3 linked regions of the Homo sapiens genome follow. The protein of the gene in region 1 interacts with the protein of each later gene in a biochemical or structural test. Each region holds a gene or a part of one and is shown on either strand. Other genes may lie near its edges.

The links.
Region 2: the proteins of ESR1 (region 1) and ARNT form a complex in vitro, tested with the Homo sapiens proteins (2 studies listed by BioGRID).
Region 3: the proteins of ESR1 (region 1) and PHB2 form a complex in vitro, tested with the Homo sapiens proteins (3 studies listed by BioGRID).

The regions. Positions count from the first base shown.
Region 1 is NC_000006.12:151,838,560-151,845,692, reverse strand, and holds part of ESR1 (estrogen receptor), read right to left. Parts: intron 3,097-7,133; coding exon 2,906-3,096; coding exon of another isoform or gene 2,900-2,905; intron 1-2,899.
Region 2 is NC_000001.11:150,873,571-150,881,193, forward strand, and holds the start of ARNT (aryl hydrocarbon receptor nuclear translocator), read right to left. Parts: upstream 3,030-7,623; 5' UTR 2,998-3,029; coding exon 2,973-2,997; intron 1-2,972. UniProt on the Homo sapiens protein: Required for activity of the AHR. Upon ligand binding, AHR translocates into the nucleus, where it heterodimerizes with ARNT and induces transcription by binding to xenobiotic response elements (XRE).
Region 3 is NC_000012.12:6,967,636-6,975,559, forward strand, and holds the start of PHB2 (prohibitin-2), read right to left. Parts: upstream 3,030-7,924; 5' UTR 2,909-3,029; coding exon 2,782-2,908; intron 2,646-2,781; coding exon 2,561-2,645; intron 1,943-2,560; coding exon 1,863-1,942; intron 961-1,862; coding exon 776-960; intron 387-775; coding exon 257-386; intron 145-256; coding exon 41-144; intron 1-40. Other genes in the region: EMG1 (ribosomal RNA small subunit methyltransferase NEP1), read left to right, coding at 3,289-3,456, 6,704-6,805, 6,917-7,058, 7,455-7,513, 7,594-7,743.

The DNA of each region.
Region 1 (7,133 bases):
AAACCAAGTGGAATTGCATTTTTATAGGCTACTGTTTCAGTAAAATTCTACTAGCTGGTCTGCGTATACAAGACGGCGATAAGAGGTTTTTGTTAGTGGTGGTGGTGTTGTTTTGTTTGTTTTTTGAGATGGAGTCTCACTCTGTCACCAGGCTGGACGGCAGTGGCATGATCTCAGCTCACTGCAACCTCTGCCTCCCAGGTTCAAGCAATTATCCTGCCTCAGCCTCCCAAGTAGCTGGGACTACAGGTGTGCACCACCACGCTCAGCTAATTTTCATATTTTTAGTAGAGATGGGGTTTCACCATGTTGGCCAGGATGGTCTCGATCTCCTGACCTTGTGATCCACTCGCCTCAGCCTCCCAAACTGCTGGGGTTACAGGCCTGAGCCACCACGCCAGCTGAGATACTTGTTTTTAACTATCAAAGAGTAAGCAGACATTTTTCAAAATGTTTGAACTTGAGATAATGCCATACCAATGAAACATCTCACACTGTATTCGTTGATTTTTAGAAATATATTTTCCTTCTGTTTTTTCTGTTCTTAATGCTTAGAGACAATACTAAATGTTATGGGAATTTATATAATTTTATCTTAAATGCTGAACAAAAATGATGTAAAAAATTTGTGAGAATATTGCCATTGTTTCTCGGAGGAAGATCATTTCCACTTTCAATCTTAATAATTTTAATTTATAACTGGTATTTTCATTTCTTACATCTCTCTATTGTTTTCCTTATCTTTCTCATACAGGTAACACTTTATCAATACTGACTTACTTTCTGATTGTATCATGAGAACAAGTACATTTACTTCCTCAAATAAATTTCCTAAATACATTTTAAATTTTGTGGTATTATGGATTATGTCTTACACTTTTTTTTTATTTCTCTCGGAACATCTAATCAGGTATAGAGTAAGTTCTCAGTAAAATGTGAATAATCAAAACTTTAGATTTAAAAATCCCCTATTCCCTTCCATAAATAAAGGTATTTAGATCAGATAAATAAACATTAAATCAGGGATCGGCCACGGGCCAGGGCTGATCTGTTACCTATTCTGATAAATAAAGTTTTATTAGCACATAATCACTTCCATGTGTTTACAGGTCACCTTACAGGCTATAATCCAGTTCGGTAGCTGCAACAGAGACTGCATGGCCCTTGTAAAGCCTAAAATATTATTATCTGGCCCTTTACAGAAAAACTTTGCCAACCACTGCTTCAAATCATTTTTACTGATGAGGAAACAGTCTCAGCTCAATCCATCCAGTTGTGCAGTTAGACCTATCTACTAACCATACCTCTGTCAGACGCTCTTTCACTGCCAAATTAAATGCTTGGTAAAAACAATGGTATTTTAGATTATATAAAATCAAATAAACAGTAAAACCACAAATTAAGAGAGTTGTCAAAACACCTCTAAGGGCTTATACTAACCTAAATCAAAATATAAATGTCATTTTTTTCTGAATTAAAATAGCATCATCTAATAAAATTAAATAGCCTGTGTGCATATATATATTTATATATGTTTAGAAAAATAATAAATATATTAACTTACATTTAGAATTTATTTCTATATATATACACACACAAAGATTACTATTGAGAATATCATTAATTGTATAAAAATACCAACAAAAAAGTCCATGTGTCTCACAGCAGAGTTCTAAAAGATGTTAAAAGCAATGTGTCGAAGAAAATGCTTTTAAAATAGACCATGTTGACCTCACATGCTACTCGATTAAGATATGAACAGCTTTTAAAAAAAAAAAAAAAGTCCCACTGGCAACGGAAGGAAAAATAAATACTATATACCATCCCCCAGCTTTCATCTCATATCAGGGCAGGAAAGAGCTATCACAGAAAGTCCATGAGAATCACTTCTTCAATCAGTGTTTATTAACTTAGCGGACTCTGGTTTTCAACAAGTTACTTAAATCTGGGTTTTTGTAGAAGGAATCACATGAAAACTCCATCAGAAATATTCTTAGTGTTTATACTAACCTTCACTTAAGCTGAAAAGGTAAAGAATAAGAAGAGAGAAAAATGCCCCACACTTAAGATAAAAAATGAATTTGGTTAGCCTAAGCTGCTGTCAGATCTCTGTTCCTATCAGATAAAGGATATTCAGCATAGGTATTTTAGGTAGTAAAAATGATTAGTGTTTCCCCAGGGTATCCTATTATAATGCAATAATAGAGACATTTCTGGAGTAGAAATAAAGTATAGCTCTCCGTATATTAGCTATAATTGGCAAACTATAGACAAGAAAACAATGGAGGCAGGCGGGAAAATGAAATGCTACAGGTAGATACTTAATAACTGTTTGATAAAGATGATATCTCCCCATTACAAGACACCAACCACTGAGTCAGCTCATAGCAAAATATCCTGTCATCCATTGAGACAAGAAAGAGATGGAAGAGAGAAAGGGGAGAACAAGCTAAACTAGAACAAAACAGAATATTTGCCTGGACAAGGCCTGAGTAGAGAGATAATTATGCATGGACAATTAACAGCATATACCAGATCATATAGGCAAAGTTGCCTACCAAACATGAATGTCCATCTGGCATTCCCCAGTCAGGGCACAGACAACATTTCTTTTTTCCTCAGAGATCCAGCTAGTGGAATTCTTCTGTAGAGTTGCTCAAGACTGATTGAGTCTTGCCAAAGGAAGGAAGCGGAATTACTCAGCCTCAGCTGCCCTGCCATGTGTCAACTCCTTCTCCTGAGATCCTGTCTCTTCTCCATGTTTCTACCAAAGATACTAGTGGACCTACTAGGGATTCATGTTTTGTACAAATGGCTGATTCTATGTCTTCCTTCCTCAGTCGCTTTGGCTCTTAGGATCTGCTCATAGGATCAAAAATAGAAGTCGTTTTCAACACACTATTACCTTGAATACTTCTCTTGAAGAAGGCCTTGCAGCCCTCACAGGACCAGACTCCATAATGGTAGCCTGAAGCATAGTCATTGCACACTGCACAGTAGCGAGTCTCCTTGGCAGATTCCATAGCCATACTTCCCTTGTCATTGGTACTGGCCAATCTTTCTCTGCCACCCTGGCGTCGATTATCTGAATTTGGCCTGGGGGGAAAAAAACAGTAAATCCATTAACATTAGAAAAGCAAAACATGCACTCTCTGGGAGATGCAGCAGATCCACTTTATCCTGACATTTTGAAATAATGAATCATAATGTAAGCTAATCTTTCATTACCTCTTGCCGTCTGTTGCAGCAAAAGGTGTTGCCTATTATATTAACCTTGAGGGGAAATTGTTTATTGCAAACTTGTTTTAAAAACATACTACCTGCACCAGAATATGTTACCTATAAAAATGACAAAATGAAATTAGCTGGTTTCTAATAGACTTAATGTTTTTGCAGGAATATACAATTATTTCAGAACCATTAGAGACCAATGCTCATCCCAACTCTAGACCACACTCAGGGTCTCTGGGAAACAGAGACAAAGCATAAAACAGCTGGGACATTTGGAACTCAGATGAACTGATGGACAACACAGAACATGTGTCAAAAAAATAACAATTCAAATTTTTACGTCATTGCCACATAACCCTGGATATCAGTTTTTATAACTTGAATAATGTAATTTGAAAATACTGTTCTTCAATATTCAAAACTCCTCTTTAGGAACATGTAGAGACTGAGCATGGTGGTTCATGCCTGGAATCCCAGCACTTTGGGAGGCCAAAGCAGGAGAATTGTTTAAGCCCTGTAGTTTGAGCCCAGCCTGCACAATATAGCAAGACTCCATCTCTATAAAAATGCTTCTTAAAAAAATTAGCTGAGAATGGTGATGTGTGACTGTAGTCCTAGCTACTTGTAAGGCTGAGGTGGGAGAATCACTTGAGCCTAGGATGTCGAGGCTGCAGTAGGCTATGATTGATCATGACAACTCCAGACTGCGTGAAAATCAGAGGAACACAGAAAAAAAAAATGTAGAAAGAGAGACAATCAGAGGAACACAGAAAGGAAACTGAAAATGAACAGTAAGAAAATTCTAGGAAAACCAAGAAAATAAGGAAGTAAAATGCTTTAAGAAAGTAGAAAGCTAAAAAAAAATGTAGGAAGAGAAGAGGAACACAGAAAGGAAGCTGAAAATGAACAGTAAGGAGATTCTAGGAAAACCAAGAAAATAAGGAAGTAAAATGCTTTAAGTAGAAAGGTTTATGGAGAGGATGATCAAGAATGGCAAATGGGGCAGAGAAGTCCAACAAAGCAAAGACTGGTTAAGTGAATTCAGACCTGACAAAGCAGACTCTTAGCAAGGAGTTTCCTTAGACAGGTACAGGCACAAGCCAAAATTCAGCAGATGGAATGTAAGGAGATGAAAATGAGGGAAGGCATTCCTTTGAGAACTTGGAGGAGAATAGGAAAAGATACAGATAGGGTGGCAGCTGAAGAATATAAGACCCAAGAAAATGAATTTTTTAGAATGAAGAGACTTGAGAAGGCCTCGTGTAGACTGAAGGGCATGGGCCAGGAGAAAGGGAATGTTTGAAAGCACAAAGAGGAAGATAAAAGAATAAAGCCAAGAAGGAAACTAGAGGAGTTGGGATTAAAAACACAGGTAAAAGAAATTGCCTCAATGAAGACAACTTGAAGAAGACTGGAAGGAAGGAGGTAAGGAAAGTAGAGGAAGATGAGTTTGCATCTCTCGCCAGACCAGACATAGGAGTAGATGTTATATTGGCCCAGGACTTGGCAGGCATGTGCAATCAAATAAAGGTGGAATAAGAGCCCAGCACAGTACCTGGCATGTAGTTGGCACTCCATAATATATTTAAATGAATGGAGAGAGTGTTCAAAGTTGTATAAGAAAGAAAGGTAGGCAGACATTGAAAGTATAGATGGAGTGAAGGTTCCTGTGAACATTTTTTAAAAAATGAAAATCCTAAGATGAGCTAAAGTCAATTGATGATAGCCCTTCCAGCAGGGTCTCTTGGCAAAGGAAGCTCAAGCTTCCTGCTTCCAGTCCCCACCCAAATACCCGAACCACACTGACTTTCACTGGCGCTCCCCTTCACAAGCCCTGTCTTTCCTTTTAGCCCAAATTGTATAACCTCTCCCTGCCTTCTCAGTCATTATTATGGTTCACAATTTTGTGGTAGTGGTTCTCAAACTACATTTGCCATAATATTCACAAAATATTGGCTCCTTGGGTTGAGTACGTCTGACTTTGCCAATTTCGTCCATTCTAAATAACTTAGTTCTGAGGTTGGCAGCCTCAAATAGGAATTCTTTATTTTTTAATGTTCATTAGAGAGCACTGGCTCACAGTTTTCAATTCTAGTTCATATTCTGTTACCCATCTCTTTCCATTTCACCACCATGCTGTTGAACCCACCCCCATCAACCTCAAATCTTTTTATTGCTTGTTTACTAATATCCTATGCATGATTCAAGTCAGTAGGAAGCAGCTATGAATATCTAACTGTAGAAGCTTAGTGCCTTTGGAGGTGGGAGTAGATATTTAGCAAGCATGAAATTGATAGATTCAATGTCTTATAAGCCTTATTAATTGTTATATCTAGCTCAGTGCCCAGCACATAGCAAGCATTCAATACATGTTTGTTGAATGAATGAAGGAATAAGTGAGTGAACAGTATACGCATGGCCAGAAGTTCCAATGTGTCAAGTATCTTCCCACCCACGCCTACATAATAAAATGCTATATTTTTTAAATTGTGGTAAGATATATATAACACAAAATTTACCATCGTAACCACGCTTAAGTGTTCATCAATTCAATCATGTTAGATATACTCACATCATCGTGCAACCAGTCTTCAGAACATTTTCATTTCACAAAACTGAAACTCCATACCCATTCAACAATAATTCCCCATTTTCTCCTTCCCCTATCCCCTAGCAGCCACCAATCTACTTTTGTTCTCTGTGAATGTGGCAATTCTAGATACCTCATTAAGTGAAACCCTACTTTTGCTTTTTGTGTCTAGCATATTTCACTTAGGATAATGTCCTGAAGGTCCATGATGTGACTAATATGCCATTGTCTGTATATACTACACAGACTTTGTTTACCCATTCATCCATCTATAGACATCTGGATTGCTTCTACTTTTTGGCTATTATGAATAATGTTGCTATAACTATGAGTATACAAATATTTCTTCAAGACCCAGATTTTTAATTCTTTTAGATATATACCCAGAAGTAGAATTACTGGATCATATGATAATTCTATTTTGATTTTTTGAGGAATCACCAGTGTTTTCCACAGTGGCTGCACCATTTTACATTCTCATGAACAAGGCACAAGGTTTCTATTTGCTCTATATCCTCTCCAACACTTACTCTCTTCTTTTTCTAATATAGTAGCCATCCTAATGAGTGCGAGGGGAATACTGCATTTTTATGTCTTTTGCCTGAATGCCTCCCTTACCAGCCACTCCTAATCCCCATAAACTTGAATCAACATCCCTGTTCTGAACTCTCTAGAAGATTTTTTTATTTCTCTTCTGCTACTTACTATATTAATCTTCAATTGATTAATTCTCATTTCCATTACTATCTGCAAAGTTCTTGGTGTCTTATTCATCTTTAAAATGCCATGTGCTTAGAGCATAGTGCCTCACTTGGAATAGGGACTCAACAACATTGATATCAAATGACTGAATCAATAAATGTATAGTTTCCACAATATAGATAGAATATGTAAATACTATTTTTATAAATATTGACAAAAGATTTAATAGCGAGAGCCCATTTTCCTCAGAAATAGCAAAGATGTATGCTGTCAGCAAAATGCCATTCATCTACATTTTATCTCTAAGATGACCCCCAGCTTACTGAAAATCAACTGCAGACTTTGGGCATAGAAATAGAAGGCATCTAAAGAAGACGGGGAAACTACATGGGCTATATTCACTAACCATAAAGGAACTTTTTTAGCCAACTTAGAAATCCATGTAAATAACATTGTCAATTATCATTTTGGCCCAGACTTACTCCATAAAGACTGTCAAAATGTTATTTAAAAAAAAACAAAGAATATAAACTAAAAGGCAAGAGCGGTCTTCCTCTGGGCTCCAAGACCCTGTGGCACGTTGAAATAATGTTCACGTTGAGTATCCATC
Region 2 (7,623 bases), on another chromosome or scaffold:
AAACACTGCAGGGCCACCAGCACAATTAACATGTTCAAGCACTATTACTAACCCTAAGGATTAACTTGGCCGGGTCAGTGGCTCACACCTATAATCCCAGCAGTTTAGGAGGCTAAGGTGGGAGGATTGCTTGAGGACAGGAGTTCAAGATCAGCCTGGGCAACATAGCAAGATCCCATTTCTACAAAAAGTTAAAAAATGTATCCAGGTGTGGTGGTGTGTGTCTGTAGACCCAGATACTCAGGAGGCTGAGGTGGGAAGATCACTTGAGCTCAGGAGTTCAAGGCTACAGTGAGCTGTGATTACACCATTGCACTACAGTCTGGGAGACAGAGCAAGAACCTGTCTGAAAAATAAAAATAAGTATTATTTTTAAAAAGGATTAACTGAAGTGAAGGTTAAAGAGTGAAATATTTTTTAAAATCTTGACAAAACTAACAAGAATTGTAAAAAAAAAAAAAAAAAAAAAAAAATTAGTACTCCAGCAAAAATACAAAGTAGAAAAAACTCAAAGAAATAGGCATGGTGTCCCTAGTCCTTAAAATGGCTCTAAGGAAAGAAGGTATGACAGTGTAGCAAAGAATTCTGACCTGAAAACATTTACTTTCACTAAGCACAGTACATTTCCACCTATGTCCCTCCATTCATTAATCTCATTTCCCAAAAAGCAACAGGCTACTGAAAAAATCCACAATGTATCTCTGATCTCTTCCTCATGATATACAAGAGCAAAGGGAGAAAAGAAAAAAGAAAATATATCTTCTGATTTGATTGAACTGAACATGGGATCAATAAGTCAGAAGAGATGGAATAATTTTTCAACATCAAAAAAGAAATCTGGTCAAAGTGTCTCACATCTGTATTCCCAACTTGGAGAGACTGAGGCAAGGCTTGCTTGAGACCAGGAGATCAAGATCAGCATGGGCAACATAGCAAGGCATCTGTCTCTACAAAAAAATTTAAAAATTAACCGCGCATGGTGGCAAGGCACCTGTAGTCCCAGCTATTCGGGAGGCTGATCGTGAGAGGATCACTTGAGCCCCTGAGGTGGAGGCTGCCGTGAGCAGTGATCTTGCCACTGCACTCCAGACTGGGCGACAGAGCAAGGAGCAAGACCCTGTAGCAAAAGAAAAAGAGGGGAGAGGGGACAGGAGAGAGGGGAGAGGAGAAAGGAAAACAAAGAAAAAGAAAAAGGAAATCTAAAAATTGCAGAAGCAAGCAGCCAAAGCATAGTAAACAAAGCTGTTTCATTAACAAGGATTCTGCACACACACATACACACTAACATATGCTATTTTCTGCTAAGATTTAAGCTGATATTGATCAGCTTATGAAAATATGGTCAAGAGGCTGTCATTCTGGTTGCTGTTGTTCAAAAAACAAAACAAAATAAAGCAACCCCACCCACACAGCTGGAAAAAAGCTTCTGACATATGAACTAAAACTTGTTTACCCAGGCCACTTCTTAATAAGAGAAATGCTTTGCAATTTAACTAGGGTTATATAAGTATTTTGCAATGTGTGATCAGTTAAAAATCTTGTTTATTTATTCCATAGTTCACAGATAGGTTATATTACTACAAGGTCAGGTTTGACATAACGGCATTTTTCCTGTTTTATAGTTTTATTCTATCACTCAGCACTTCCTGCAATGTAATTTTTGCGATTAATTTTACCTCCCTTTCCTTCAAAAAAAATTTAAAAGATTAAAAAAAAATGACGTGACAAATTAACCATTTCTTAAAATAGCTATTCCCAGAAACACGGTAGAAAAGAAATTTCAGTGATTCAACTGTCCTATCAAAATCTGGATATTGCAAAATCATACTGCCTTTCAGTAACATGAAAAAAAATCTAATTTAAATTTCAACGTGGGGATGGGGGTAATCACTCCTACTGTTTTATTTTCAAGAAATTCTCCGCCCCACGCAACACACACACATATCTCAAGGCCCTTTTTAAGGCTATCAAATATATTGGTTTTTGGAAAAGGATAGACTTTATTTGGCAAGAATAACCAAGGTCTCCAAGATAAACTAGACCCCTAAAATGAAATGCCTTCTAAAGAGGAATAACTGTAACATAGAGGAAAGAGGGCTGGGACTAGTAATTTGAAGATCTGATCTCTCTAGAACTGCACTACACCCTACTCCATCTCTTAGACAAAACAGACCAAACCTTTTTGATATTTGATTATTTTTTGAAATTGAGAAATGGTGTGGAATCAAACTTTTCTGAAAGAGTTTGGAAATTGCCTCGACGTAGGCCTAACAAGATTTAAACCTGGGGCTGTGGAACTAAAGACCTGTCCGGAACCATAACCATTACACAAACCCCTGCCCTCAGCAGGCAAAGACCTACAGGCCCTCTTAACACAAGATCTAAGTTTCAAAGTATAGTCCGGGGACGGAGACGGGGACGGGGGTTGCGGGTGGGAGGTAACAGCCTAAAGAAACGTCGTATATATCAAAGAATGTCCATTTTTTATTTTTTAAATTAAAATCTAAACCTTTAAATGTTTGGAAGCAACGCCTCAACTAAAGAGCAGTGTGGTCCAGGGTTTATGAATCCAAACTACTCTTAAAGTAAACCGAGACACTCTGCCTACAGTTTTCGGCATCAAGCGGCTCCAGCGGGCAGAGGGTTAAAAGAGGACCACATCACAGACCAGACGCCGACCGAGGAGTGAGGGCGGGCCAGCCCCGCACTGGCTGCCGCTCCAACGGAGGTCAGGACAGGGAGCCCCCCTCAACTCCCACCTGCCCCCTCGCTCCCTTGGGTATACTCGAGTCTACCCAAGTCCCCGGGATCGGGCCCCTCCCCAGGTCACCGCTCCCCCACCGTCTCTCGCGGCCCCCGCCCCGCCCCGGCGCCTTCAGCTCCAGCTGCGTCCCCTCAGCCCTGGGTCTCCTTAGTTGTCAGCCCCTTCGGCCCCTCCCCTTTAGAGGCGCCCCAGTCCTCCGTCTCCTCACCGGGGTTGGCAGTAGTCGCCGCCATGGCCGCAGATGCCACCGCCGCCGCGCCACCCCCCCCCCCAGTGGGAGGAGCCGCCGCCACCGAACCGGGAGGGAGGGGAAAAGAAAGGCCACTCCCCAGAAGCGGCGCCTGACCGCCGCCTCCGCTACCGCGGAATCCAAGATGGCGGCTTCAGCAGCCCCCAGCATCCCAGCCCCTGCGGCGGGGAGACCCCGCCTATATAGTAGGCGGAGTCAACACACGGCCAGCCTCCTAAGAAAAATTGACCAATGAAAATGCCAAATCGTCCAAGGGCAGGGCTACTCACTGCGCCAGCCAGTCCAGTGAAGGGAGGGCGAGGAAGAAGTCCAGCTGTCTCCCTAATCTCGCCCTCCTTGCGTAAGAGGTCAATGACCGAGTAACGTCATTGAAATGCAATTAAAATGGGTATTTTAGGCTGGGCGCGGTGGCTCGCGTCTGTAATCCCAGCACTTTGGGAGGCCGAGGCGGCCGGATCACCTGTGGCCAGGGGTTCGAAACCAGCCTGGCCAACATGGCGAAACCCCGTCTCTACTAAAAATACAAAATTAGCCGGGCGTGGTGGCGCATGCCTGTAATCCCAGCTTCTTGGGAGGCTGAGGCAGGAGAATCGCTTGAACCTGGGAGGCAGAGGTTGCAGTGAGCCGAGATAGCGCCACTGCACGCCAGTCTGGGCAACAAGAGCGAAACTCCGTCTCAAAAAAAAAAAAAAGGATATTTTACTAAAAACCTTCGCTTGGTGGTGGATTCGTCTGAGTGGTTGCCGTGCAGACAATGTATCTTGTAAATCCTCTTTAGGTGCTAAAGAGCACCTAAACATCACATGGTGATTTGTAATCCTTTCCAGTTTTTTTCCTCTTTTAAGGACTTTTGTCCCTGGTGAAAAAGTTAAATGACTAACTTTTGAATGCCTGCTATGGAACCGGTAGTCTAAAAGGATCCAGGTGTTAACGGTTTGGTATGGGAGATATTGCCAGCCAAAATTGGAGGCAATAGATGAAGAAAGTAATTTGAGAATGGGTAACTTCTTTGGTCAGTGACAGGGACAGAGTGAGGAGTTTTGTTTGTCTGTTTTTGAGACAGAGTCTCTCTCTGTCGCCCAGGCTGGAGTGCAGTGGCGCAATCTCGGCTCACTGCAACCTCCACCTCCCCGGTTCAAGCAATTCCCCTGCCTCAGTCTCCTGAGTAGCTGGGATTACAGGCGCACGCCACACGCCTGGCTAATGTTTTTTGTATTTTTAGTAGAGATGGAGTTTCACGACGTTGGCCAGGCTGGTCTCGAACTCCTGACATCAGGCAATCTGCCCGCCTCGGTCTCACAAACTGTTGGGATTACAGGCGTGAGCCACCACACCTGGCCAGTGAGGAGTTTTTAATAGGGAATCAATAAGATGATGGCTGTGCAGATTTATTTTCTTTTTTCTTTATTTTTTTCTGAGACGGAGTCTTGCTCCATCACCCAGGCTGGAGTGCAGTGGTGCGATCTTGGCTCACTGCAACCTCTCCCTCCCGGGTTCAAGCAGTTATCCTGCCTCAGCCTCCTGAGTAGCTGGGATTACAGGCGCGCACCACCACGCCCGGCTAATTTTTGTTTCCTGGTAATAGGAAGCATTGAGCTATTCGAGGTAGGCACTGTCCAAAATGCTTTATATGTATTTACTCATTTAATCCTCACAACAACGATGAGGTAGGTTCTACTGCTATTTCCATTTTGCAATTAAGGAAACAGAAACAAAGAGGGTAAGCAAGGGACATCCAGCAGGTAAGTAATGTGGGAGGCAAACTAAAGGAGTCTGACACTGGAAACCTGTTCCACCCATCCCCCTATTTTAGCACTACAATTTTAGCACTACAAAGTACTTCCATTTTCATGTATCGCTCACAAAATGTTTAATACAAATTTAATTAAAATTTTAACAAAAATCCCATTATGCTATTGAACAGCTTTGCATTCTTAGAAGTTGTATATGTACTGCGCAGATTACATTGATCCACTTATTTAGTTTACTGCAAAGGTATTTTAACATAATTTACATATTATTGTTTACATCTGTTAAAATTTCATTTTTCTTTCATTTTGTTGTTATATTTATAAGTCACCAAAAAGAAAAAAATCATCCACCCAAAAGAAATACATTGGCTGGGCTGGGCGGGGTGGCTGTAATCCCAGCACTTTGGGAGGCCAAGGAGGGCGGATCACAAAGTCAGGTGTTCGAGACCAGCCTGGCCAACATGGTGAAACCCCATCTTTACTAAAAATACAAAAATTAGCCGGGCATGGTGCCGCGTGCCTGTAATCCCAGCTACTCCGGTGGCTGAGGCAGGAGAATCGCTTGAACCTGGGAGGCAGAGGTTGCAGTGAACCGAGGTGCCCCTGCACTCCAGCCTGGGCGACAGAGCAAGACTCCATCTCAAAAAAAAAAAAAAAAAAATGCTGTAGCTTCTTTACCAAGTAAAATGGATTTTTCCAGAATAAATGCAAAATGTTTTCCTGTATGATGTGGATACATTTTGTGGTTAAAAGAGATCAAGTTACATTTCTGTAGAAAAAAATTGGTAGAAATCATTTTGTTATAGAGCTGCTTACACAACTAGCTACAAAGTTAATAACATATTCTGTTTGGAGACAGTGCAACAAAGCTGGCTGGGTGCAGTGGCTCACGCCTGTAATTCCAGCACTTTGGGAGGTCAAGGCAGGAGGATCATCTGAGATCAGAAGTTCAAGACCAGCCTGGCCAATATGGTGAAACCCCATCTCTACTAAAAATACAAAAATGAGCTGGGCGTGTTGGCACACGCCTGTAGTCCTAGCTACTCAGGAGGCTGAGGCAGGAGAGTCGCTTGAACCTGGAAGGTGGAGGTTGCAGTGAGCTGGGATCGATTGGGCCACTGCACTCCAGCCTGGGTGACAGAGCGAGACTCAATCTAAAAAAAAAAAAAAAAAAAAAAAAGTGTAACAAAGCTATTGGCAGAATTCTTTGTCAAATATCACATGGAGTCATGATACACAACATGAAATGGCAATATCTGCCCTGTACCTGCTACCAGATGTTTGTTTTAAGCGTAGAAACCACTGATATACACAATATGAATCCGCTTACAGCATATAGGCAATACATAAGGAGAAATGCCCAGAAACTTCCTGTCTGGTTTATCATTAAAAATTCAAGATACAAAAGAAAACATTTTTCATTTAGATAAGAATTATTTTGTGAGGTATGAGTCAGTCTGAAAAAGATATCTTGGGATCAAAACTGATGGAGTTACAGGCCAGGCATGGTGGCTCACGGCTGTAATCCCAGCACTTTGGGAGGCCAAGACAGGCGGATCACTTGGACCCAGGAGTTTGAGACCAGCCTGGTCAACATGGCGAAACCCCATCTCTACTAAAAATACGAAAATTAGTCTGGCATGGTGACACATGCCTGTAATCCCAGCTACTCGGGAGGCTGAAGCACGAGAATCACTTGAACCTGGGAGGCGGAGGTTGCAGTGAGCCGAGATCATGCCACTGCGCTCCAGCCTTGGTAACAGAGCAAGACTCTGTCGCAAAAAAAACACAAACAAACAAACAAACAAAAAAACACTGATGGAGTTATAACTTTGGATGCAGAAAGAACACTGTTCCTACAAAAAAGATGTCAGTCCACTTTCCTTTTTATTTCCTTTTTTTTTTTAGACAGAATCTCACTCTGTTGCTCAGGCTGGAGTGCAGTGCCATGATGGCTCACTGCAACCTCTGCCTCCCAAGTTCAAGCTATTCTCCTGCCTCTGCCTCCTCAGTAGCTGGAATTACAGGCGCCCGTCACCACTGCCCCGCTAATTTTTTTGTGCTTTTATTAGAGATGAGGTTTCACCATGTTGCCCAGGCTGGTCTCCAACTCCTGAGCTCAGACAATCCACCCACCTCGGCCTTCCAAAGTGCTGGGATTACAGGCATGAGCCGCCATGCCCAGCCCACTTTCCATTTTATTCAGAAAACAGTTCATAGCCAAAATATATTTCTCCCAGCCAGGCTCAATGGTGCATGCCTGTAGTCCTAGCTAATCTAGAGGCTGAGGAGGGACGATCACTTGAGCCCAGGAGTTTGAGGCCAACCTGGGAAACATAGCAAGGCCTCATTTCTAAAAAAAAAATTTCTCCTGATTTTGATTCGACATTGAACAAATTAGCACAAACCATAAATGTAGTAAAATATCATCCAGTGAGCACAATCTTTGAGAAGAAACAGATAAATTGGTGCTTTCTCCACAGTTAAGTATGGAGGCCAGTAAGGGGGGGAAATGCTGTCAGTTTTTAATAAGGATTGAAGTGAAAATCTCTTCTTTATGATATAGATAATACTAACATAAACCATTTTTATTATTTTAAGTAGGATTTAAGTAGGTTTCTCAAATGGTTCATCTGAGCAATATTTTCATTAACATGAACATATTACTTTAACTTCTAAATGTCATGGTTTGGAGTTTTGTTTTTGTTTTAGAGATAGAGTCTCACTCTTTCACCCAGGCTAGAGTGCAGTGGCACCATCATTGCTCACTGGAACCTCGAACTCCTGGCCTTAAGCCATTCTCCCACCTCAGCCTCCCAAAGCACAGGGATTATAGCCATAAGCCACCACACTCAGCC
Region 3 (7,924 bases), on another chromosome or scaffold:
CCCTAGGGGCTGGGCTGAGATCTCTCCAGCAGAAGGATATCATCTTGGCAGCCTCGGCCTCACCCTCGGCCTGCACAATTTTCTGCCGCTGTTCCTGCTTTGCTTTTTCTACCAAGAATTGGGCCCGCTGGGCCTCCTGCTGGGCTGTGGTGGGAGAGAGTCAGGGAGACCCTGTCCTGGGTCAGGAGCCCCACCCATGGAGTCTTTCCTCCTCCTGCATCTCAGAAGCCCTCACCCCACGGCTCTTGCGACTCACCCACTTGTTTGGCTTCTACAGCAGCTGTGTACTCTCGGCTAAAGCTCAGCTCTGTGATGGCCACATCATCCAGGATGAGGCTGAAGTCCTTGGCCCTCTCTGTCAGCTCCCGGCGGATCAACAGGGATACCTGAGGGCAGGGGTGAAGAGGGGAAGGGAGGGGTGGTTTGAGGGGACTGGGGAGCTGAAAGGAAGGTTGCGACCCCTAACCCTTCACTCTCAATACAACATGCACTGCCTTAGCTTCCTGTCAGGCAAACCTGTAACATAAGCCTCTCTGCTCGAAGAGGTGCAGGAAAAGCCAAGACTTGGCCATTTTCCTCTGTGCTTCCTAACACCGAGTGCTATCGAGTTCTAATGCTGGCTCTCCTTATTTCACAGTGGCAATTAGCACAGCTTTTAGGTGGAAATGGCACTAGGGTGACAATGCTTTTCTAATAAGCTGCCTTTCCTAATTCCCAATACTCTGGGCCTAGGAAGGAAAGGCTGACACCACGCAGATGGTGGTGGGAGTCAGACCTGGGCCCGCTGGGTGATCAGCTGTGAGGCATTGAACTTGGCCACCACACTCTTGAGCACCTCGTTGACAATGGACGGCAACACTCGTTCCTCGTAGTCCAGCCCTAGGCGCTGGTACATGCTAGGAAGCTCCTGAGCATTGGGTCGAGACAACACTCGCAGGGAGATATTCACCATCTGTAGGTCTGAGATTGAGGTCAGCAGTGGCTGGTCAAGGCCAAACACCCTTTCCCAAGCATTTTCTCCTTCATGTTCCTCCCTGTATGCCCTGTGCAATGGTGTACAGCCTGGCACTACCCTGGGGGGAGGAGAGTTAATCAGGCTGACAAGGAAGACAAGACGCAGCACAGCTGAAATGCACCCTCACCCACTGTGAAGCCTTGAACTGCAAACCCCGTCACCAGCAGAGCTGACTACTCTTTCCCCCTCTGTACTCTGTGCAACCTCTAACGTGGGCGCTTTCGTGCTGTACCGTAATCATGTCTCCTGTAAGGACTTGGGGGACAAGAATTGTGTTTAATGAATCTTTTATTCCCAGGGCCCAGTCTAGTAAATGAATAAGCGACCTGCACTAGGTATAGCACAAAGAAGTACATTACAGGTTACAGGTGAGCTACCTGACCCAGGGTGTATATGTGTGCGTGGGTGGGGAGGAGGAAGAGGTCTGGGGAACTCAAAGGCACGGCTTTTATGTATGGTCTAGAAGGAGAGAACAGGTGAACTAGTCAAGCTTAGGGACAAACTTCTCCAGAACAGAGTGTACTAGTGGATGTAACTGTAGATATAGTAAGTCAAGCAGTTAGAAAAAAAAGGCTTTAAAACAAAGCTTTGATCTAGGCAGTGAACAAGACGAGGGACAAACAATACTCTTATTGAATACACGTCAGGGAGGAGACAGTAAAAAGCACGCAAACACAGTGTGTTCAGAATTTGCTGCTTTGACCCCAGGAGGCAGGTATTTTTGTTACAGCTCTTGCAGATGTGGAAAGAGGCCTAAAGGCCTGACACTACCATATTCCCCTGGGGTTTCTTGCCAGCTACCTTGATCATCCCACCTGCCATGTGATTACCAAGTGCTCAGACCTACCTTTGGAGCCTGTAGGGGAGGAGATTTTTCGAGGTCTGGCCCGAATGTCATAGATAATGGGGTACTGGAACCAAGGGATCCTGGAGAGGACAGGGATAGGTATTAAGAGGCCACAGTTTCGGCCGGGCGCGGTGGCTCACGCCTGTAATCCCAGCACTTTGGGAGGCCGAGGCGGGCGGATCATTTGAGGTCAGGAGTTCGAGACCAGCTTGATCTACATAGTGAAACCCCGTCTCTACTAAAATACAAAAATTAGCCGGGCGTGGTGGCGGGCGCCTGTAATCCCAGCTACTCGTGAGGCTGAGGCAGGAGAATCGCTTGAAATCAGGAGGCGGAGGTTGCAGTGAGCCGAGATCGCGCCACTGCACTCCAGCCTGGGCGACAGAGCAAGACTCCCTCTCCAAAAAAAAAAAAAGAAAAGGCCGCAGTTTCACTAGCCTTGCCCGGTTTCCCCTCACCACGCGTTTTTTGGCCTGCTCCTCTCCACGACCACAGACAAGGAGAGATTCTCTTGTCCCTCTGGAAAACAACAGTTTGTATGCTGCTGGAGGTTCTCGCAGCACCCACTATCCTAGGGGCAGGGATGAGGAGGGTGGGAAAAGAGCAGCGTTGAATCCTGTTGCACGTCCGACTATAGCCACTGCTGGGTCGGCGTCAAGGGTGAAAGGTCAGGGTCAGCAGGCTCTGCCCGCCATTACCTGAAGTGAAGGCCCTCGGCCAGGATAGTGTCCTGCTGCACTCCACCGATCCGATTGAAGAAGATGGCTCTGTGCCCGCCTTCCACTGTGGGGAGATGGGTGGTGATCAGGCCAGGCCGCTGCTCAGAGGAAATGCTAGGCCCGTGGAGGGGCGCGGGGACAGGGCAAGGGGTTTGGGGGAGGGACTGGAAGCGTCCGGCGAGCAGGCGGAGGTTGCTCACCGGTGAACACAGATTCGCGCACACCGTAGGCCACGGCGCCGGCCCCCAGCAACAGCTTCAGGGCCGTGCCCATGCCCCGGGGCCCGGCGGGCAGCCGTCCCGCCAAGTCCTTCAAGTTCTGGGCCATGTCTGATCTTGAGGCCGGCGGCACTGGAGGTCAGAAGGGGGTGCCGGCCCGCCTCTACCCCGCTCCGGCTTAGGTACTGCACCCTTCACACGAGGGTTCGGGCCCGTAAGGCTGGCGAAAGAAAGGGCAGCGGAAGTGCGCTCCCTTTGAAACCCTCCCCCTTAGCCCACTACGGACCCGAACTTCGCGCACAGGAATCGCGCATACGGAAGTCCCGCCCCTTTCTGGAAGGCTGCCCTCCCAGGGAGGGCAGCGCAAGACAGCAAGTCATCTCCATTTCCTGGCCCACTTTCAAAATGGCAGCCGGAAGGAAATTTGTGATTAGAAGCCGCGCTGTTCTTATTTAAGAGCGTTAGCGCAACTTCCGGTATTGTTGCAAGATGGCCGCGCCCAGTGATGGATTCAAGCCTCGTGAACGAAGCGGTGGGGAGCAGGCACAGGACTGGGATGCTCTGCCACCCAAGCGGCCCCGACTAGGGGCAGGAAACAAGATCGGAGGCCGTAGGCTTATTGTGGTGCTGGAAGGGGCCAGTCTGGAGACAGTCAAGGTAGTTTGGGACAGGAAGTGGAGAAGTAGTAAATCGATAGGTTGGGACTCCGTGGAATGAGGGTAAGGGGCCCAGAGTGGATGTAGAAAGCAGAGAGGGGTGAAAGATGCTTTTGAAGGAAGGTGGCTTGGTTGGCTTTGCGTTGATTTGACATCCTGGGATGGTAGTACTCATTTTTCTTTCTTTTTTTTTTTTTTTTTGAGACGGAGTCTCGCTCTGTCGCCCAGGCTGGAGTGCAGTTGCGCGACCTCGGCTCACTGCAACTTCTGCCTCCCGCCTTCAAACAGTTCTCCTGACTCAGCCTCTGGAGTAGCTGGGACTACAGGCAGGTGCCACCACGCCCGGCTAATTTTTTTGTATTTTTAGTTCAGATGGGGTTTCACCATGTTGGCCACGCTGGTCTCGAACTCCTGACCTCAAGTGATCCGCCCGCCTCGGCCTCCCAAAGTGTTGGGATTAGAGGCGTGAGCCACTGTGCCCGGCCGGTAGTACTCATTTTCTTTTGCTCTTTTTGAATGATATTCTAGCCCTCACCTCCTTGCTTCCAATTGGTTTACCAGGATTCTGTGGTATAGTAGTCTAAGCAGAGGAAAGTTTCGTTCCTTGCGTCATTCCACATCCCAAGACAAGTTACTGGGCAGATGAGAAACGTAGTTATGTAGCCTAGTCTGCCCACACTTTTTGTAAGGGCTTCGTGTTTCAATTCATTAGTATCCATAGTCACCTCTCTCTAATATCCACCTATGATACACTGTCCAGACCTGGTTATTATTTAAAACTTTTACATCTGCATTTTTATCTATCATTCATCTCTTTCCCCACATGTAATAGAACCAGCAGTTCTCTATCTTAAAGCCTTGGGCAGTGTTCTTCCTCCTCCTTTCTCTTACCCGTTAGAACTAATTGAATAGGCCCAGAAGAAATCGCATTGGTTTAGAAGTCAGGCCAGGATTTTAATCTTCGTTCTAAATACACTTTTTTTTTTTTTTTTTTTTGAGATGGAGTCTCAGTCTCTACCAGGCTGGAGTGCAGTGGCACGATCTTGGCTCACTGCAGCCTCCGCCTCCCGGGTTCAATCGATTCTCCTGCCTCAGCCTCCAGAGTAGCTGGGATTACAGGCCTGCGCCTGTAATCTATTAAAAGAATAGAAAACATGATTATATCCTACTAATGGGTTGAAACTGTATTATTCATTCAAGAAGGTTTTTTTCTTCTATAACTAAGGGTGTCTCATGGACTTAGTTCTTGGTCATTTGTTCTTTGTGCTCTCTGTGACATTACTTCAACTATTCAATTTCAAAATCTACATCCCTTTTTTCGCAGACTTTTTGGAGCCATATATCTCAAGAATGTTGCTAGACATATACATTCCAGTGATACATAAAAACTTAACCTTCCAAAACTTGTATTTGTATATAACAGTTTGTTTTTAGACTTTTTACTGACCACCCTAATGCTCCTTGGGACTCCAAATTGCAACTTGGAATTATTTCTTTTAGCTGCTACAGATGTAGTCCACTTCTTTAACATCAAACTTCTGATGTCTTTTCCAGTGTACAGAGAGTTGTTAGGATAGTGTCTGTCAGTCATTCCCATCCTGCCCTGCTTACTCCAGAATTATTTTTGGCTTTGTGCTTGATACATTAGGATTCTGTGGTTTACAAAGCAGCTTCATATATAATCACTGCCCTTTAGTGTCTCAGCTCCCAATTTTCCTCAAAATTTCCTTTCTTCGTTTCCACTTTTTCTTTTTTGTTTCTTTTTTGAGATAGGGTCTTGCTCTGTTGCCTGGGCAACAGAGTGCAGTGGTGTGATGGTTCACTGCAGCCTCTACTTCCCTGGCTCAAGCAGTCCTCCCACCTCATCCTCCTGAGTAACTGGGACTGCCAGCAAATGGCACTGCGCCTGGCTAATTTTTTTTTTTTTTTTTGTGAGACAGGGTCCCACCGTGTTGCCCAGGCCGGTCTCAAATTCCTGGGCTCAAGTGATCCTTCCACCTCGGCCTCCTAAAGTGTTGGGATCACAGGCATAAGCCACCACACCTGGCTACTTTGTCTTGATTCCATCTGTACCTTTGCTCATGCCAGTCTTTCTTTTTTCTTTTTTTTGAGACAGGGTCTTGCTGGAGTGCAGTGGTACAGTCTTGGCTCACTGCAATCTCTGTCTCCTGGGCTCAAGCCATCCTCCCACCTTAGCCTCCCAAGTAGCTAGGACTACAGGCATGTGCCACCATGCCCAGCTAATTTTTGTATTTTTAGTAGAGATGGGGTTTCGCCATGTTGCCCAGGCTGGTCTTGAACTCCTGACCTTAAGTGATTTGCCTGCCTTGGCCTCCCAGAGTGCTGGGATTACAGCCGTGAGCCACTGCATCTGCCCCCATGCCCGTCTTAAAACTGGGAATAACCCCTCTTCCTTTTACTTCTGAGAGTTTTCTTTGATTAAACTGCCTCCTGCATCATTAGTTTTCACATTTCTTTTTTTTGAGATGGAGTCTCGCTCTGTTGCCCGGGCTGGAGTGCAGTGGCGCTGCAAGCTCCGCCTCCTGGGTTCATGCCATTCTCCTGCCTCTGCCTCCCAAGTAGCTGGGACTACAGGCGCCTGCCACCATGCCCGGCTAATTTTTTATATTTTTAGTAGAGATGGGGTTTCACCGTGTTAGCCACGATGGTCTCAATCTCCTGACCTTGTGATCTGCCCGCCTCGGCCTCCCAAAGTGCTGGGATTACAGGCGTGAGCCACCACGCCCGGCCTTCACATTTCTTGTTCAGATTTGCAGCTCTTCACTTAGTGCATGTTTGGTGTACGCAAACTGAGGGTGGTGACTCGATATTTTGCACAGTACCTACTTACTGCTCCTGTAATAAACACAGCATTCAGCCTTGCTAACTACTAACTCCTGCCTAGTTCCAGGATGTCTCATTGGCCTTGCCTAACAGCCACAGGTTTTTTAATTAAATCCAGTGTATTAGTAGATAATGTGAAGTCACAGGTTGTGCCCTTCCTCCTGTTTCCCTCTCAGACCATTCACTGGGGAGTGCAAATAAGGCTGCACAGTAATCCCCCGAAGGGCTTGCTGGGCTCCACCCCCAGTGTTCCTGGTTTAGTAGGTCTAGGGTGGGCCTGAGAATTTGCCTAACAAGTTTCCAGGTGCAGCTGCTGCTGGTAGTTTGGGGACCACACTTGAAGAACCACGGGGCTAGGTAACAGAAGCTTATGCTGTTCTCTCGTCATGTTCCCTGTTCTTCAGGTAGGGAAGACATATGAGCTACTCAACTGTGACAAGCACAAGTCTATATTGTTGAAGAATGGACGGGACCCTGGGGAAGCGCGGCCAGATATCACCCACCAGGTAACTCCAGGGACAGTGCTCACAACCCTTTGAGCCTCTGTATGGAAGGGTTGGCAGCTGAGTGCTGCCTCTCTTCAGCCTTAACCATGTCTCGGTTTCTGCTTTGCTCAGAGTTTGCTGATGCTGATGGATAGTCCCCTGAACCGAGCTGGCTTGCTACAGGTTTATATCCATACACAGAAGAATGTTCTGATTGAAGTGAATCCCCAGACCCGAATTCCCAGAACCTTTGACCGCTTTTGTGGCCTCATGGGTAAGAAGCCTTAGAACAAAGTTAGAATGAACTTGTCAGTAGGGAAGAAGGGAGGAAGAGGAAAAGGGAGAACTAAATGTGGATTTTTAAGCGAGAAAATGGGAGAACAACATGATTAATACCAGGACAAGGACTGTTATTATTTTTCTATGTTTGTGGAAACTCCACTCCTGTTCTTGCAGTAGCTTCCTGGCTGAGTGAAAGAGGGAGTCTGAACCCATCACTGTACAGCTAGCCATATGCTTGGCAACTGTTTGTTCCTAACATTTCAGGAGTCCAGTCTAGATATAAAGCACACAGGGAACTCATCTTATCCATGGGGTTTTCCTTGTTCGATGACTGGACAGAAGGACTGTGGTCTCCATCTAGCTCTGAACTCTTTTTTCCCCCTTCTAGTTCAACTTTTACACAAGCTCAGTGTTCGAGCAGCTGATGGCCCCCAGAAGCTTTTGAAGGTGAGGTATTGAAACCTGTTAGTTGAAGGCTGGTTCTGGGAATGTTTCTGGGGCTGACTTTTCTCTCTTTTTTACTTTAGGTAATTAAGAATCCAGTATCAGATCACTTTCCAGTTGGATGTATGAAAGTTGGCACTTCTTTTTCCATCCCGGTTGTCAGTGATGTGCGTGAGCTGGTGCCCAGCAGTGATCCTATTGTTTTTGTGGTAGGGGCCTTTGCCCATGGCAAGGTAAGGTCTGGGCTCAACCCTGAAATTCTTGGTAGAGCTGAACTTAGTATAGAATTCCCAGAGCAGTAGGCATTTTAACAATGCTTACAATGAGCTAGAAGACACATGACAGTTCCACACCCTGCCCCAGGGCACATCCTTTGAGGGCTGCTGCCATAATTGGAAGTCACAGTTAGGACCT